Linked DNA regions of Homo sapiens: region 2 is linked to region 1. Evidence: fine-mapped expression QTL. Tissue or cell type: whole blood. Region 1 holds a variant in brackets; the other region holds the start of a gene. All regions are shown on one strand. Distances are between the middles of the regions.

Evidence for each region. PIP is the estimated chance that this variant, and not a neighbour inherited with it, causes the effect.
Region 2: BRIP1 starts here. The variant in region 1 is fine-mapped to the expression of BRIP1 in whole blood (TOPMed, PIP above 0.99).

The regions. Positions count from the first base shown.
Region 1 is chr17:61,812,730-61,821,089 of GRCh38, forward strand. The region is part of intron 6 of BRIP1 (BRCA1 interacting DNA helicase 1); the gene reads right to left. Among named protein-coding and RNA genes, the nearest start is that of BRIP1, 47 kb to the right of the region's middle. RefSeq lists an enhancer at 3,029-4,051. The variant A/G (reference allele first, on the strand shown) is at 3,900.
Region 2 is chr17:61,859,821-61,867,820 of GRCh38, forward strand. It overlaps BRIP1 (BRCA1 interacting DNA helicase 1), which reads right to left and starts at 3,708. Exons shown (of 20, transcript NM_032043.3): 1 at 3,464-3,708; 2 at 1,627-1,749; 3 at 1-87. The coding sequence starts at 1,719. INTS2 (integrator complex subunit 2) reads right to left here. Exons shown (of 25, transcript NM_001351695.2): 25 at 5,547-7,906. The coding sequence ends at 7,737.

The DNA of each region.
Region 1 (8,360 bases):
AAGGATTTTCAGAAAATTTTTCTTGTGTTTAATAAATTATATTCCCTCTCTTGTTGTATTATATAGAGACATGTCTACATTCTTTCAAAGATGAAGAGTTCGAAGATTTGATCTTGAAAGAAAGATGAATTGCTGAGTCCTTGCCACTGTTCCTTTCACAAGCTATAATTATAAGTTCAAACGGTAACATACCACAATGTCAACTTCTAAAGATTTATAACTTTCTCCAAACTTTCCCTACCACTCACACAAAAAAATACTATGCCTAAATACCTGAAAAATGAGCATAGCAATTAAATATTTTTAGAAATGGAAAATGATAAAGAAATAGGAACTAATTTCATTGCCAAAGAAGAAGTTCCTTTGCTAACTGTAAATCAGGAGAGATTCTCAAAGGAGACTACAAATTGAATTTCAAAAGCAGGCAGGAGTACGAAAACTAAGTATATAAAGAAGTAGAGAGAAAAAGAGAATGAAGAGAAACCTGTTTGAGTGAAATAAAAGGAAAACTAGGTCAATGAAACAGTAAAAAAAAAAAATACAAAAACTTGTGTTCTTCCATAACTTTCCACATGTGCATGTATTGTCTTTCCAACCACACTGCAAATTCCTTGAAGACAGAAACTATGTCTTACATTTCTTTATATAGCTCATTCATCGAGAGTGGTGTTTTGCACATAACTGTAACTTAGCTTTTTTTAAACTGATGAATTATGACTAAATGTCCCTGAACCAAATACTGTACCCATGCATTACAATTAAATCTGACAGATGCTTAAATGATGTCCTAATTTGAAGTGCTGCACATATCAAAAAGATACTTCAAAATCCAGATTAGCTTTTAAAGGAAAAAGTACAGGACAATTACTATTTTTCAAGGCCAAAAAGAAAAACCATCTTATGCTAGTATTTTAGTCGTGACAAACATATATCCCAATATTTTCATTAGTAATAATACTGCCATTTTTAAGCCTGTCCTTGTGCTAAACATTTTTCATCTAATATCCCATTTCATTCATTCATTGACTCAAGAGACATTGGAATCCCTATATATCAAGCCACGGAGAAGACAATGACAAGGATCACCTCATCTTACTGACAAAGAGAGCTTCATTCTTAAATTGTTCTACAAAGTGTAGTTCTTGGAGTTTATCACACCATTTTCACTCATAAACCAAGGAATTGTTTAAAGTTAGTTATATTATTTTATGAATGCAATTACAAAATATTCCTAAGTATGATCTTCATAAAAATTGTTTTAACTTATTAGTTGACATTTAAATCAAATATGTTATAACAAGATCCATATTATGTCCCCCAAGGGAAAAATAAAAAACACAAACTTTCAATTAATAGACTCTTTAGAGCAAGAGTCAGCAAAAGAGCCAGACAGTAAACATTTCAAGCTTCAAAGGCTATATGGTCTCTTCTTCCATAGGAAGATATCTTTTATGATCGAAATGTAGAGAAGGATTTCCTAAAACAATAAACCAAAAACACAAATGAGTGAAAACACAGCTTCATTAACATGTTAAACTTCTATTTAAAGATACATATTCCTTAAAGAAGGAAAGAAAAATAGGTAAAAAGGGGGCACAGGCTGACAGAAGATACTTGCAGTGCTTACAGTCAAGTGAGGATCAGTATCTACAACATATAAAGAATTCCAATAAATCTATTTTTAAAAGACAAACCCTACAGAAAACCAAGAACAGGCAAATCACAGAAGAGAAAAGCTGAAAGGCTAATAAATATCTGAAAAGATGTGCCATCTAATGTACAGCTTCACTAGTAATTAGGAAAATGCAAATTAAAACCATAATTAGATTCCATTTCCTATCCACCAGATTGGGTACTGGAGAGGATATGAAGAAACTCTTATTCACTGCTGATCGAAGTATAAATTGGCACAACTACTTGAGAGCAAATTGGTGATCTAGTGAAATCAAAGATACATATACCCTTTGACCCAGCATGACACTGTTAGGTATACATGCTAGAAAAACTCTTGCACATTAAGACAGATACAAGAGGAATATTAATTGCAGCATTGTTTTAATAGTGAGAAAAACAAGCTACATGTATCAACAGAAGGAATGGATGAGTAAATTGTGGGCTCTTTCCAATCAATGGAATAATATTATAATGAAAATATATGAATGACAGTTGTATGCATCGACATCGATAAACATGAACAAGCAGTTGAACAGGCTGAGTATGGCTTAAACAAAATTGTATTTTCCCCATAAAATTCTAAATAAGTTGATGATAGAAATAAAAATATAAAACTTCAGGTAGAGAGTGAGGAATCAAGACTATGGAAGATAATCTTAAAAGCTAACAATTGTCATGAAAAACATACCTGAAAAATGCTAGAAGTGCTGGAAAAAAAAAAAAAAACCCACAGTAAATATACTCTGTTCTGGTTTCTCCTCAGTTGTTTCATACCCAGCAGAATAGCTTTCATCTTAACACCTCCTCCTCAAAAGTTTTCAACCTAATTTATTAGGAAATGGGTTCTCAAATTAGGGTCCATGGGCTATTACAGATCACCCAGAAACTACAGACACAATTTTGTGTGCATTTTTAGAAAGTGAACCCCTAACTTTAATCAAGTGCTCAAAGCAGATTGTGACTGATTTGGGTTAGGGCTTTATTCCAGAATTTATATCTGGTTTTTTAACGAAAATCAAATGGAAACAACATTTTCTTTATAACCAAATTAGCCAGACATAGTTATTCTGTAAAGGAATAAACAACAGCCAAGAGAATTTCATAAAGTTTCCTCCACTGCTTCTGAACTCATTTCTATTTTAATGTTTGTTAATTACCTAATATTAACATAAGGCTAAAATACTCAGTTCACTAATGTATATTTCTAACTTCATTTTACAGATAAAAAAGGAAATTCAGAAGAATTCAAATTCCCACAAAATACACAATAAATTTGTGGAGAAGTTGAAATTCATAACCTTAAATCTTTAAAGTGAAGCTTTAACAGGATTGTTTTCATCTACCACTTAAGCAAAAAAGCAAAACACTGCCCTTTATTTCAAAAAGTCATGCATATGAAGAGCTAGTGGTAAAAGGCCAATGAACATAGAATTATACTACAAACTTTGAGACATAAAAAAGGGTTTTTTAATCTTTATCAACCATTTGCTGTTGTCCAAGCCATCTAAACAGGTACTGAATGCCCGTTGTGCAAAATCTCACATTAGCACACACTCTAGTAAGATAGCAAAAGTAACATAACTATACCTTTTCAACTATTCTTTTTTTAAAAATTCAAACAGTAGTAGTACCCTACTGCCACCGTTTCATGATTAGACTGCACAAAGCAGCTGTTTATCCACTCACAGCAACCAGCAGGTGAACCTGATTCAATATTTATCACAGGCTTTCATAGATCACTGCTAACCAAGCAAACGTTTTAATTAAGCTGGAACTTGCTTCAAAGAGCTCATTCAAGATGTCAATCAGCAGGTAGGGGATCAGATACAGTGTCAGGTGAGAGTGTGTAATACAAATCCACAACTTTCTTCATCCCATCGCTGTAAATTAGCCTGCTCTAAAGTTCAGACTCTGATTGTAACAGACTGCCAGTCTCCTGGAATGTGTAACTGAAGTCACTCAAATTCTATTGTGAAGGTTGTAAGCAATATGTTAAACTGCAGTGGGCTAGCACATTAAGACAGATCCTTTTCACGGTTGTTTTTTGATACCATAAGTGTTTGTTACCCTACTCTCCACTTACTGTTTACTTTCTTGCCTAGTGTAAATGGGAATTCCTTAACACAGTTGCTCCAGTTTCTGAAAAGTCTGTGTTTCAATAGAGTAAATCAATAAGAATTATCAGTTTAAGAACAAGCATATCATAAAGATGACTGACCTGCTAT[A/G]AAGCAAAAATTATCCTGGTATAATAGAACTTTACATAGATGTGATTATAGCAATGAGTCTCAAAGCAGTGATGAGTCACACCGATCAACTTCATGAGAAAAACCCAGGGTGTTTATAAAAAATAAAAAGGGGAAAAAGAAGACTCAAACGAGCAAAATGGGGAAGTGGGCGGGTAGGCGGAAAATATCTTCTTTAAATAAGAATGCCAGCTAAGAATTGTAAATAAAATGATAGAATTTTAAAAATCACCATTTTGCAACTTTCCTGTACTAACTGATTCAGGCAAGTTACATAAATGGATGCTGAAATCTTTCAGTGAAAAGTTATTAGGGAACAGAATATTGACAAAGTCTCAAAATATCACCCCACAGATTATTCATTAATTACAAAAGGAAAATGTACCTTTACAATGAAGAGACCTGGCAGTGACACTCTAACCAAGTGGTGAAATTCAGCATCAATGGTATTGAGACTAACTGGCTTCATATGCCTCCTGATATAAGAAATATACTCTTGTGCCCATCTTCAATAAAACTACATGATTATTAAATCCAAACAATCAAGACATGAATCAAAAAGAACCTGGGAATAGAGAAACTGTGGTAAAAAGACATATATGTATTATTTAGTCGGTGAAAATTCATCCAATTGTAATTTATGATATGTACACTTGGTTATAGATTGTATTTCAAAAAGGCTTTTAAAAAAAACCCTATCTCTTGAGATTGCAGGTAATTTTTACTTTCTCCTTTATGGTATTTTTCAAACTTTCTTCAATGAACCTTTTAAAATGAGAAAACAATGCTATCCTATCATGTCATTTTCCACATATTAACCAAAATGCTATAAACAAAACATATGACATAGAGATTTGTGCTTCTATGGGCTTTAAAAATTAAATGGTTATTATTACATACAAGTCTCTAAAGCAGCACTACCCAACAGGATTTTCTGTGATGACAGCGTATTTGATATCTGCACTATTCAATATATTTGGCATTAGCCGCATGGGCACTTGAAATGTAATTAGTACAACTAACTGAATTTTAATTTTAATTAATCAAAAAACATAAATACATGTGGCTAGTGGACAGAATACATTTAAAGTATTATCAGAGATTCTAGAAAACCAATGGTTATTGCAGGTGCATTGTATGTGTGAGAAATTCTCTTCGTAAATTCAAGTTAGAAAGGAAAAAGCAAAAGTACACTGTAAAAATTGTGTGCTCATAGGTAAAAATGGGTTCTGCAGGTTGCAGCTCATGAAAACTGGGTTCACAATTTTTGTAGACTAGTAAACTACTTTTCTTAATCTTTTTTGTTCTAATTTTTGTCTGAATTCCAATCAAAATCCCAGCAAGATTTTTTTTTGGGTAATCTAAATTTAATCTTGAAAATAAATAAGTGAGAATAACCAAAACTTTTTGGAAAAATAAGATGGGGACAGGTGTGATCTCTCACACCTGTAATCCCAGCACTTTGGGAGGCCAAGGCAGGCATATCACTTGTGCTTGGGAGTTCGAGACCAGCCTGGGCAACATGGCAAGACCTCATCTCTAAAAAGGGGGGAGGGGGGGGAAAGATGGGCAAGTAGGGTATATATTTCTATAGATGTAAGAATTTCAAATATATGATAAAGATGCTGTATTAGGCACCTCTATGGACATGTGTCCACCTACTTACTCTGAAATCATCTATATCCCCTGCTGAAAGGCTGAACCTAATATCCACATTAATAACACATATCCAAAGACACTCTCAGGCATAGCAAGATCAATTAGTTTCACTTTCCCAAGAACTTGTATTTGGGGCATTTAGACTGAGTTGATTAATTACAGAAAATAGGCCACATCATTTGGTAGATTTTAGGCTTCCACTTTGAGATGTCATGGTAAGGTCATATGAAAGAGTGTAAGTATCTAGAAAAACCAATCTACAAAAAATAATGAGAAAACTTTGCTGAGAAATGCAGATGTCACACCAGAGGCCCCAAAGAGAACAGAGAAGCTGCCTAAAAACTTTTCATTTCCAATGAGGGGAATTATATCTCCTGCATGATCTTTCTTTTAGCGGGTTTCTATTTCTTAAAAAGCAGATCACTCCCTTAAAAATCTGATTTAAAAATGGGCCAAAAATTTGAATAGACATTTCTCAAAAGATATACAAATGGCAAACAGACATATGAAAAGGTGCTCAACATCACTGATCATCAGAGAAATGCAAATCCAAACTACAATGAGATATAATTTCATCCCAATTAAAATGGCTTTTATTGGCTGGGCACGGTGGCTCACACTTGTAATCCCAGCACTTTGGGAGGCCGAGGGGGGCAGATCACCTGAGGTCAGTAGTTCGAGACCAGCCTGGCCAACTTGGTGAAACCCAATCTCTACCAAAAATACAAAAATCAGCCAGGTGTGGTGGTGCACGCCTGTAATCCCAGCTACTCAGGAGGCTGAGGCAGGAGAATCACTTGAACCCGGGAGGCAGAAGTTGCAGCGAGCCGAGATCATGCCACTGCACTCCAGCCTGGGCAACAGAGTGAGAATTTGTCTCAAAAAAAAAAAAAAAAGGCTTTTATCCAAAACACAAGCAATAACAAATGCTGGCGAGGATGTGGAGAAAAGGGAACCCTCATACACCGTTGGTGGGAATGTAGATTAGTACAACCACTATCGAGAACAATTTGGAAATTCCTCAAAAAACTAAAAATTGAATTACCATATGATCCAGCAATCCCACTGCTAGGTGTATATCCAAAAGAAAGAAAATCAGTATATCGAGGAGATATCTGCACTCTCATGTTTATTGCAGCATTATTCACAATAGCCAAGATTTGGAAGCAACCTAAGTGTCCATCAACAGATGAATGAATGAAGAGAATGTGGCACATACACAATGAAGTACTATTTAGTCATAAAAAGAATGAGATCCTGTCATTTTCAACAACATAAATGGAACTGGAGGTCATTATGTTAAGTAAAATAAGCCAGGCACAGAAAGACAAACTTTGCATGTTCTCACTCATTTGTGAGAGCTAAAAATTAAAACAGGTGAACTCATGGAGAGAGAGAGTAGAAGGGTGGTTTTCAGAGGCTGGGCAAGGTAGTCTAGGGAGGGGAGAGAGTGGAGTTGTTAATGGGAACAAAAAAGTAGTTAGAAAGAATAAATAAGACTTAGTATTTGCTAGCACAACAGGGTGAATATAGTAAAAAATAATGTAATTGTACATTTCAAAATAACTAAGAGTATAATTGGATTATTTGTAACACAAAGGATAAATGCTTCAGGTGATGGATACCTCATTTACCCTAATATGATTATTACACATTGCATGCCTGTATCAAAATGTCTCATGTACTTCATAAATATATACACCTACTATGTACCCACCAAAATTAAAAATTAAAAAAAAAAAAAGCAAACCACCCTGTTTAAATCAGGTGGCATTTCAAATCTGTGGGGGAAATTATTCAACTAATATTTAGATGAATGACTATTTGGGGAAAAAAATTAGATCCTATCTCCCACCTTACATCAAAATAATTTACAGTTGAATTAAAGATCAGTATATAAGAACTGAAACCACGAGACTTCCAGTCTAATATGGCAGATTAGGTACACACATTTGCCCTCCTTCCCACCTAAAACACCACTAAAATAAACTTACTTAGTAGCTGAAGTTGCAAACTGGAGGTCCACAAATCATACCTGCTTCACAATCATGTTTTGAATGGCTACACAGAGTTTTATAAATTTGAACTACTTAAAAATTATGAGATGAAAATCCATAGTGCTGGTTTCTTCTAGAAAAACTGGTTGACTGGCCACATTAGGCCTGTATTCTTACAGGACAGCAATCCACTAACATTGACTAGATTGCCACATTTGGATGAGACATATACTCTCAAGGTATCACAGTCCCTGCCACTTAAAGAATGTAATCACATGCACTTATACTTAGACCCCTTCTTTCATTCATGCTACCTATCTGGTGCTCATTTAAGTTGCCAACCCTGGTTACAAAAGTGTAAAAAGGGCCAGGCACAGTGGCTCACGCCTGTAATCCCAACACTTTGGGAGACCGAGGGGAGTGGATCACTTGAGGTCAGGAGTTCAAAATCAGCCTAGCCAACATGGTGAAACCCTGTCTCTACTAAAAATACAAAAATTAGCCAGGCGTGGTGGCATGCACCTGTAATCCCAACTACTCGGGAGGCTGGGGCAGGAGAATCACTTGAGCCAGGGAAGCGGAGGTTGCAGTGGGCTGAGATCCCGCTATTGCACTCCAGCCTGGGCAACGAAGCGAGACTCTGTCTTAAAAAAAAAAAAAGAAAGAAAGAAAGAAAGTACACTCCACAGAGTGGGAGGGGGCTTGAGCAAGAGGCTCAAGAGCACTGGTTACAAAATTTTCTGGAGTTTAAATACTCTCTAGAGGTTTCCATTGGTTATTTTGTTGC
Region 2 (8,000 bases), 47 kb after region 1:
AGCAGAACAAAGTAAGGCTAAGCTTTTTCCACTTCCTGTGGGACTCTCCAACAAACAATGTTGCTTGCTGTTTAATCCTCTGAGAATCTATGAACACAGAAACCAATGAAAATAATAAACATATTAACTTTATAAAGGTCTCTCTCCATCTGAAGTTTAAATAGAACAGCAAGGAAAAGTGAGATTGCACTCCAGGGAACACAACAATAGCAGAAGGAACTCATATTTAGTTAAATCCAAACTGTATTCCTTTACACCTCTCCCTAAGATTATCTTACTAAAATATCAAGCACAAGAGAAGAAATGAAAAGAGGAATCTGTGCCAGAATTATGCAAGCATCAATGATTTCTGTAAAACCAGAATACATTACTACCTATCAATATATTTGATGAAAACTTAATGAAGGATACTGCTAGTGAGAGTACAAATTGTTACAACTACTTGGTAGAGAAATAAACAATTTCTTATAAAGTGAAGATGCCCAGCTCCAGCAAGTCCAGTTCTATGTGTACACCCAAAACCTTTCCCACATGAACACAAGGAAACATGCATAAGAAAGTTCACAGCAGCAGCCACGCTTGTAATCCCATCACTTTGGGAGGCCAAGGCAGGTGGATCATTTGAGGTCAGGAGTTCGAGACCAGCCTGGCCAACACGGTGAAAACCCGTCTCTACTAAAAATCCAAAAATTAGCTGGGCGTGGTGGCGCATCCCTGTAATCCCAGCTACTGGGGAGGCTGAGGCAGGAGAATAGCTTCAGCCTGGGAGGCAGGGGTTGCAGTGAGCCAAGATCGCGCCACTGCACTCCAATCTGGGCGACAGAGTGAGACGCTGTCTCAAAAACAAAAAGAAAAAAGGAAGTTCACAGCAGCATTGTTTGTAACTGCAAAAGAATGTAAACAACCTAAATGTCTACCAATAAGAAAATGGACAGATAAATTCTGGTATATTCATCCAATGGAATTTATACAACAATTAAAATGGATTAAGAATCAACAGGGCTATACATTAAAAATAATGCTAAGTTAAAAAACTCAAGTTCTGCATAAAAAGTAAGGTACCGTATCACATCAATGCACAGTTTCAAATATGTAAAATAATATTCTATATTGTTTATGGATACATATATATGTAATAAAAGTATAAAAACATGGCTAGGAAAGGAAAAGAACAAATTCAGGATACTAATAATCTTGTTACCAGTAAATAAGATATGAAGTACATATGGCAAAATAGCTGTAACAAAACTGGAAAGCTGGTTTACTCAAATTTGTATATTAATTTTCTACATGATCCAAACAAAACAATGGTGAGAAAAATAGTATTCTGTGTAAAAGATAGTAAATACTCTGTTTTTACTTAAAAGTATAGCAGTTTTTCATTAAAAGTATAGAAATTCCAAATGAGCTGAGAACATTTTTCAGAATGTTCTTCTTTGCCTTAACCACAGATATATACAGTTTAGCTGCAATCAGTAGTTTCCCAGAGGTTAGATATTCTTCCAAGTGAACCCAGAAAATATTCTCCATTTACTGAGAATATGAATGCAGTCAAATACTCAATGTACTTTATGGGTCATAAGTATCTATATCTTAATAAAAACTTAACTGCTGAAAAATACTTACAGAATTCATCATAGCAAGCTGTGACGGGTAAGCTTTATAAGGAAAGTAAATCTTCACCCCACCAATTGTATATTCAGACCACATTGAAGACATAGTGCTTTCCTGTTTATTTCAGATTCCTAACTACAACAGAAATGAAAATGTCAAATATTGAGACACGCCTTACAAAGAAAACCAGAGAACCAAAACTAAGGGAGAAATCTGGAAACAGAAACTGGAATTAATAAAAGTATAAACAAAACAAATGGAAACAAAATAATTTCCTAGTCTTATAAATCACAGCGGTCAAGAGCATGTCTTAGAGTCTAACAAATCTAGATTTGTATCCTTCACTCTGCCAGGTATTAGTTGTGTGACTTCGGGAAAGTTAGTTACCTTCTCTAAGCCACAGTGACTGCATGTACCCCATAGGATTGTGGTAATGATTAAGTGAAATAATGTGCAAATATGATAAAGTACATACCAGATTAAACATGAGCTCTTGTAACAGTTAGATCAGATGTAATCAACCTACAGAAACAAATAAGTTCCTGAGGCCTCTCTCTCTACAACTCCGTAGCATCACTCTTTCTCCAGTTCTTCCCCTTTGTGTTACCCCTTTCTGCAGTCCTCCAGTTAGAAGAAAAAAGCTGTTGACCAGAAGTCAGGAAGCATAGGTTCTATACCAGGTTTTGGTATACTGCCTGGTATGTTATCTTTGACTCAGGTATGTTATCTTTGACATATCTTTTTACTTCTCTAGTCTAAGATCCTTACCTGTGATAACCCCTAATTTAATTTAAAGGCTGTTATAAGAAAGAGAATGCCTTGGCACATAGTAGGCACTCAAAAATGTTATTTGAAGATCAGTAGAGTATTATAGAAACAGGATGGGCTTTGGAGTAAGGCAATCCTAAGTTTGAATTCCACTGTGTGAATCACTTAACTTCTCAGAGCTTGTTTCTCCATATATGGAATTGAAATACTACTACTTACCTGACAGGGTTTTTATGAAAATTAGCCAGGGCAGAATGTACCTAACCCAGGATCTGATACAGATGAGGATCACTTTAATCCTCACCTCTTCTAAACCACTTTTCTTAACCTAGGATCCACGGATGTAATTCAGAGACAATGACCTCTTGAAATTGCAAGCATAAGTTTCTGTACATGATTGCATTTTTCTGAAGAAAAAGTCCATAGATTTCTCTTCCCGTAAATATATCTCAAGGAAATCAAAATAGCGGGGGAAATTACATGCACTGTTATTAAATAAGGAATTATTTGCAGTCGTGGGAAAAAATTGTAAATTCAACCTGGGGACGAAGAGATGGTTAAAATAGCAATTCAATAGATTATGAAGCCAATAATAACATTCACCACTGCTTGTGTGCTCCAAAAGAAGAACCATTATTCTAGGGTATTTTCCAGCTCTAACATTTTGCGATTCTATCTGTAAAGCTCTGAGAATGAGGTATGGTGGAATCTAACCTCTTAATATGAATCAACAACTCAACGCTGGCCTAGTTACTCAGATATAATCTAGAAATCAGCCCGTCCTGTACCCCGGCTGTGGCAACAATAGTGTCAAAATGGGGTAGCTTCCCCCAAACATTGCATAAAGGATAAACACACCCCTCTGCCTCCCGCCAAGAATTAACGCAGCGCCCGGGCTAAGAACAGGCCTGCGCTCAAAGGAGGTAAGGATAGGCTCCCTCCTCAGGTTTTCTGCCCCGTATCTCCCTCCTCCCCCAGCCAGTTGAGATCCCCGAGACCCTGGTGATCCAGTCACCACCCATGGGCCCGCAGGCTGTGCAGAAGAACTCAAGCCCTTTCCGTGGACTTCCCTCCGACTTGCCTGTCTGGAGGGAAACCGAAGCAACGCTCTGAGCTCCGATTCACTGAAGAAAAGGAAAGGAAACCGACTTCTGAGAGCAAATAAAGCGGAGCCCTGGAAGAGAAGAAAGGGCACGAGCCCTTCCTCCTCCCTCTTCCTGGGGGTGCTGCTACTTCCCCGGCCTTGTGTGCAGGACTGGGGCCGCCGTTACCTTTCCTCGACCCACCAGACCCCTCAACCACACAACCCGAGACGAATTCCCGCCTCCCGCCCCCTCGACTCCCAGCGCCCAATAGCCCAGCGAGCTCGACCAATCACCCGCCAAGGCCAGGAATCAACCAGTCCCGGTGCGAGGTGAGGGGGCGAGAACTTCGGCATCCAATGGAAGTCTCCGAAAAAAAAAAAAAAAAACAAGGGCTCAAGGTACGCGGCGGAAGGTTGTCGCCACTCCAGCAAATCCCTAGTGTTTGTTTAAAGTAGAAAGTCGTCTCAGTTTGACTTTTGAAACCGGCGATAGAGTCTATGCAGCAAATTCCTTGGAAACTGGAAGTCTCATTCTTCACGTCCGTAGACCAGCGGAAAGGAAGTATCTTTAAGCTTTGCCAAGTTCTTTGAGCATTTATCAGTGCCACTCAATTTAAATTACCCAGCTTTGCAGTAGCCAGGATAGCGAAGACTCAGGCGGGAATTGCCAGACTGCTGAGCCAAACTTAAGTAAGAAGGCTCTGTGACATCGGGCTACAATCTATCTTTCATAATATTCAAGGCTTTCCCGGATGCTAAAATAAGCCAGAGACAAGCTCTCAGGGTCTCCAGTATCAGATCACTTCTACTTCCATTAAGGCTTATCCGCCTTCCATCCCTCCTAAGACCAGTTTATTATTTGCCAGTAGTACTTTAATTTACTCAAAGAAAAGGAGGTTCATCATGATCTTGCCAAATCATGTTATTTTTTTAAAAAATCTGTATAACCTAAACTTGGCTCAAATAATAATGTCTCCAAAAGGCAAAACCTCATACTGTTTCTCAAATTCAAGTAACTAGTTTGGGGAAGGAGTTTGCTGGGAAGAAAGAGCAGGAGGGGGCTAGTTGATTTGTTTGCCTCATTGTCAATTGTGATATATCTTACCAAAAATGACAAAACTTGTAGTCATAAAAATAAACTCTACCCTTTGACCTAGTAATCTGAGCTCCAGATATTTATCCTAAAGACGTAATCTAAACGAAAGAAAATGTGATACCGCAATTGACAATAATATCTATTGGTAATACTGAAAAAAATTATGAACTTCCCAGTCTAGTAATATGGAGGTGGTTATGACAGATGAATTCAATACATTATGAAGCCAATAAACTTATAAAAATTAAACTTGCAAGAAAAAATCCCATATAAGGTTAAGTGAAAAAAGGCAAAGCAAACCCCAAACTGGGTGTTAGGGATTCAGTAATGTGAAAATACATATGAATGAGCAAAGATGAAGTAATTTACTGTTAAGACAATGAAAGGAAGGATAATGTTTAAAAATAAATCCTTAAAAATACCTTCAAATTGTCATTTCTCTTTTATAATTTTTAAAACATCAACTCTTGGCCGGGCGCAGTGGCTCACGCCTGTAATCCCAGCACTTTGGGAGGCCGAGGCAGGCGGATCACCAGGTCAGGAGACCAAGACCATCCTGGCTAACACGGTGAAACCCCGTCTCTACTAAAAATACAAAAAATTAGCCGGGCGTGGTGGCGGGCGCCTGTAGTCCCAGCTACTCGGGAGACTGAGGCAGGAGAATGGCGTGAACCCAGGAGGCGGAGCTTGCAGTGAGCCGAGATGGCGCCACTGCACTCCAGCCTGGGAGACAGAGCGAGACTCCGTCTCAAAAAAAAAAAAAATCAACTCTTTTGAGTAACTGCTCTAGTATAACTACTCTCATTTTCCTCTCCTAAATTACTAAGAGTTTCAACTGGCTCTCACCTTGCATTGCCATTTAATGTATGTGGCATAACAGAAAGGGATACACGTAGGCCCTGGAGCCATACAGACCTCGAATACAGTCCCTTGAACCGTTCCCTTCAGGTTAACTCTAGTGGAATGAAACACAAAAACTACAGGTTCGTTTGATAAAGAATATGAATGTTTATAAACCAATATTCAAAATAGCTGCACACATCTGTTTTCACTTGAATAAAAAAACACATTGTGACAAATTTTATAACCTTAACTTAAAATACATGAATATTAACATTTACTAATATATTTACACATTTTATTTACATCATCAACAAATCTGATGAAAAAGAGCATATGTGATTATTTTAACACAGCAGGTTATGACCAGTCTTTGAATATTGATCCAGGAATGTGCACTGCATTTAATTAGAAAACATACTTTTAACTTTTTCTGAACTCCTAGGGCATATCTATTCACACAAAATATCGCAAGGCCTCAGTTTAAAAAAAAAAGGAGCAGTTGTATTTAATCTTAAGGGACTACAAAACTGCCTTGTTTAAAAATATGAAAATTCTTATGCTATTTTTAAGATACTTTTATTACTTTTATTTTTCACATCAAAATTACTTAATTGAACATTAAGCATCTAATAAAAAGTTATAAATATTCTATCACATGTGATACTATGCACTTCATGATTTGAAACAGCTACAAACTCATTCTCATAGAATATGAGGTAGGGCCAGTAGTAACCCCATTTTACAAAGGAAGAAAATGAGATGTGACTATTTACTAGTGAAAAGGCTAAAGTTAAATTTCATTTCTCAAAAACTACACCTTCTTATTAGCCTAATTTCTTTTACAAGTGAAGCGGTCTGGCCAGGTGCGGTGGCTCACACCTGTAATCCCAGCACTTTGGGAGGCCAAGGTGGGCAGATCACCTGAGGCCAGGAGTTCAAAACCAGTCTGGGCAACATGGCAAACCCCCGTCTTTACTAAAAATACAAAAATACAGGTGGCGCGTGCCTGCAGTCCCAGCTACTCAGGAGGTTGAGGCACGAGAATCCCTTGAACCCAGGTGGCAGAAGTTGCAGTGAGCCAAGATCATCCCACTGCACTCCAGCCTGGGCAACAGGGGAAGACTCCACCTCAGGAAAAAAAAAAAAAAAACACAAGTGAAGAGGTCTGTTTCAAGTGGGGGTGGGGAAGTGTGTGATTGAGGTATATCTCAGAGAGAAAAAAGGGAATTACTTTCTACATTGATAATTTTTTTTTAATGATTAGGGTTTACCTGAATATGTCTGCCTAATCAATGGAAGTTACTGACAGAGGACTGCAAAATCCTTCGGCAAGACAATATTTTCTACACTTTAACTTTTCCTCAGGTTCAAACACTGCATTTTCTTACTCAAAGATCTTCTCAAAGTAAGATATGAATTATAATCCTGATGACAAACCAAGAGCTCTTTAATCCAGTGGGTTTTATTGCTCTACCTTCATTTAATTTGATACATATTTCCCCCCTCTGAGCATTAGGTAAGTTAATAAAGCATTATAAAAATAAATTTAAAACATAAAACTAAATGAGATCTCTCAGGTTCTTCTTTGAACAAAGATGTTTCTGTAAACACTTTTACACCAGTATCTTAAAATTCCAAATTATTCAAGTATCTCTTTAAACATATGGCTTCATATATTAATAAAAATTGAAGCAAATATGTGAAATCTTTAAATCCTCATCTGTATTTCCACAGAAATCATTTACAAAAGCTACTTGCCTTTTTAAAAGTCTTCTCAATACTCTTTCTTGAGAACTAGAATTCCAACTTGCATTACTATTACTTGCACTGCAAATCTTTGAGATTTCTACTTGTGTTTTTAACTCCTATTATTTCCTTAATTCTCCTTTCCCTTTACCCTTTTTTCCTCTCCCATCTTTGCATCTTTGTCACATTCTGTTACAAGCTCACAGTTAAAATAAACACTAGGGCTACCCACAGACTCATTTTTATAAGAAATTAAAGGCATGGCAGTCTTCACTTCAAAAGCTAAATACAAGGCCAAATTCCCTTTCCAATAATGAGTTTCTTACATGTGTTCCCAGTGGAAAAAAAAAAAGCTCAGCTGCTACAATAGAAACATATCAGCAAAGTAGATCCAAAGATGTGCCAATCAGAAACAAGCAAGCATAATTCTCATAAAGTTCTAAACTATACTCATGTTGAATTGAATTGTTTTAGTGATTCCAAGACAATACTTTACTGTTCCCATTCAGTTTAGAGTTGTTACTAATATGCAGATTCATGTTGGGTATATGCAGCAAACAACTTTTTGTTGTTTTAAATTTTGTTTTAAATTCCACTAACACTCATATTTATTATTTCAATTACTGTTCTTTCAATACAGTGACAGAGCTGTACATCAGGATCCATGCTTCCAGTGTCCCTGGATCCATTTTTATAAGATGAATCTTTACAGATTTGAGACCATCCACTTGGTTTCTCCTTTATTTGTTGAAGACCTACAACATAAGGGAAAAAAAACATTAAGGCCAAGAAATTTGGAAAGGAATTTGGCCTTTTTGTTTGAGATATTAAGATAACCCTTGAAAATAA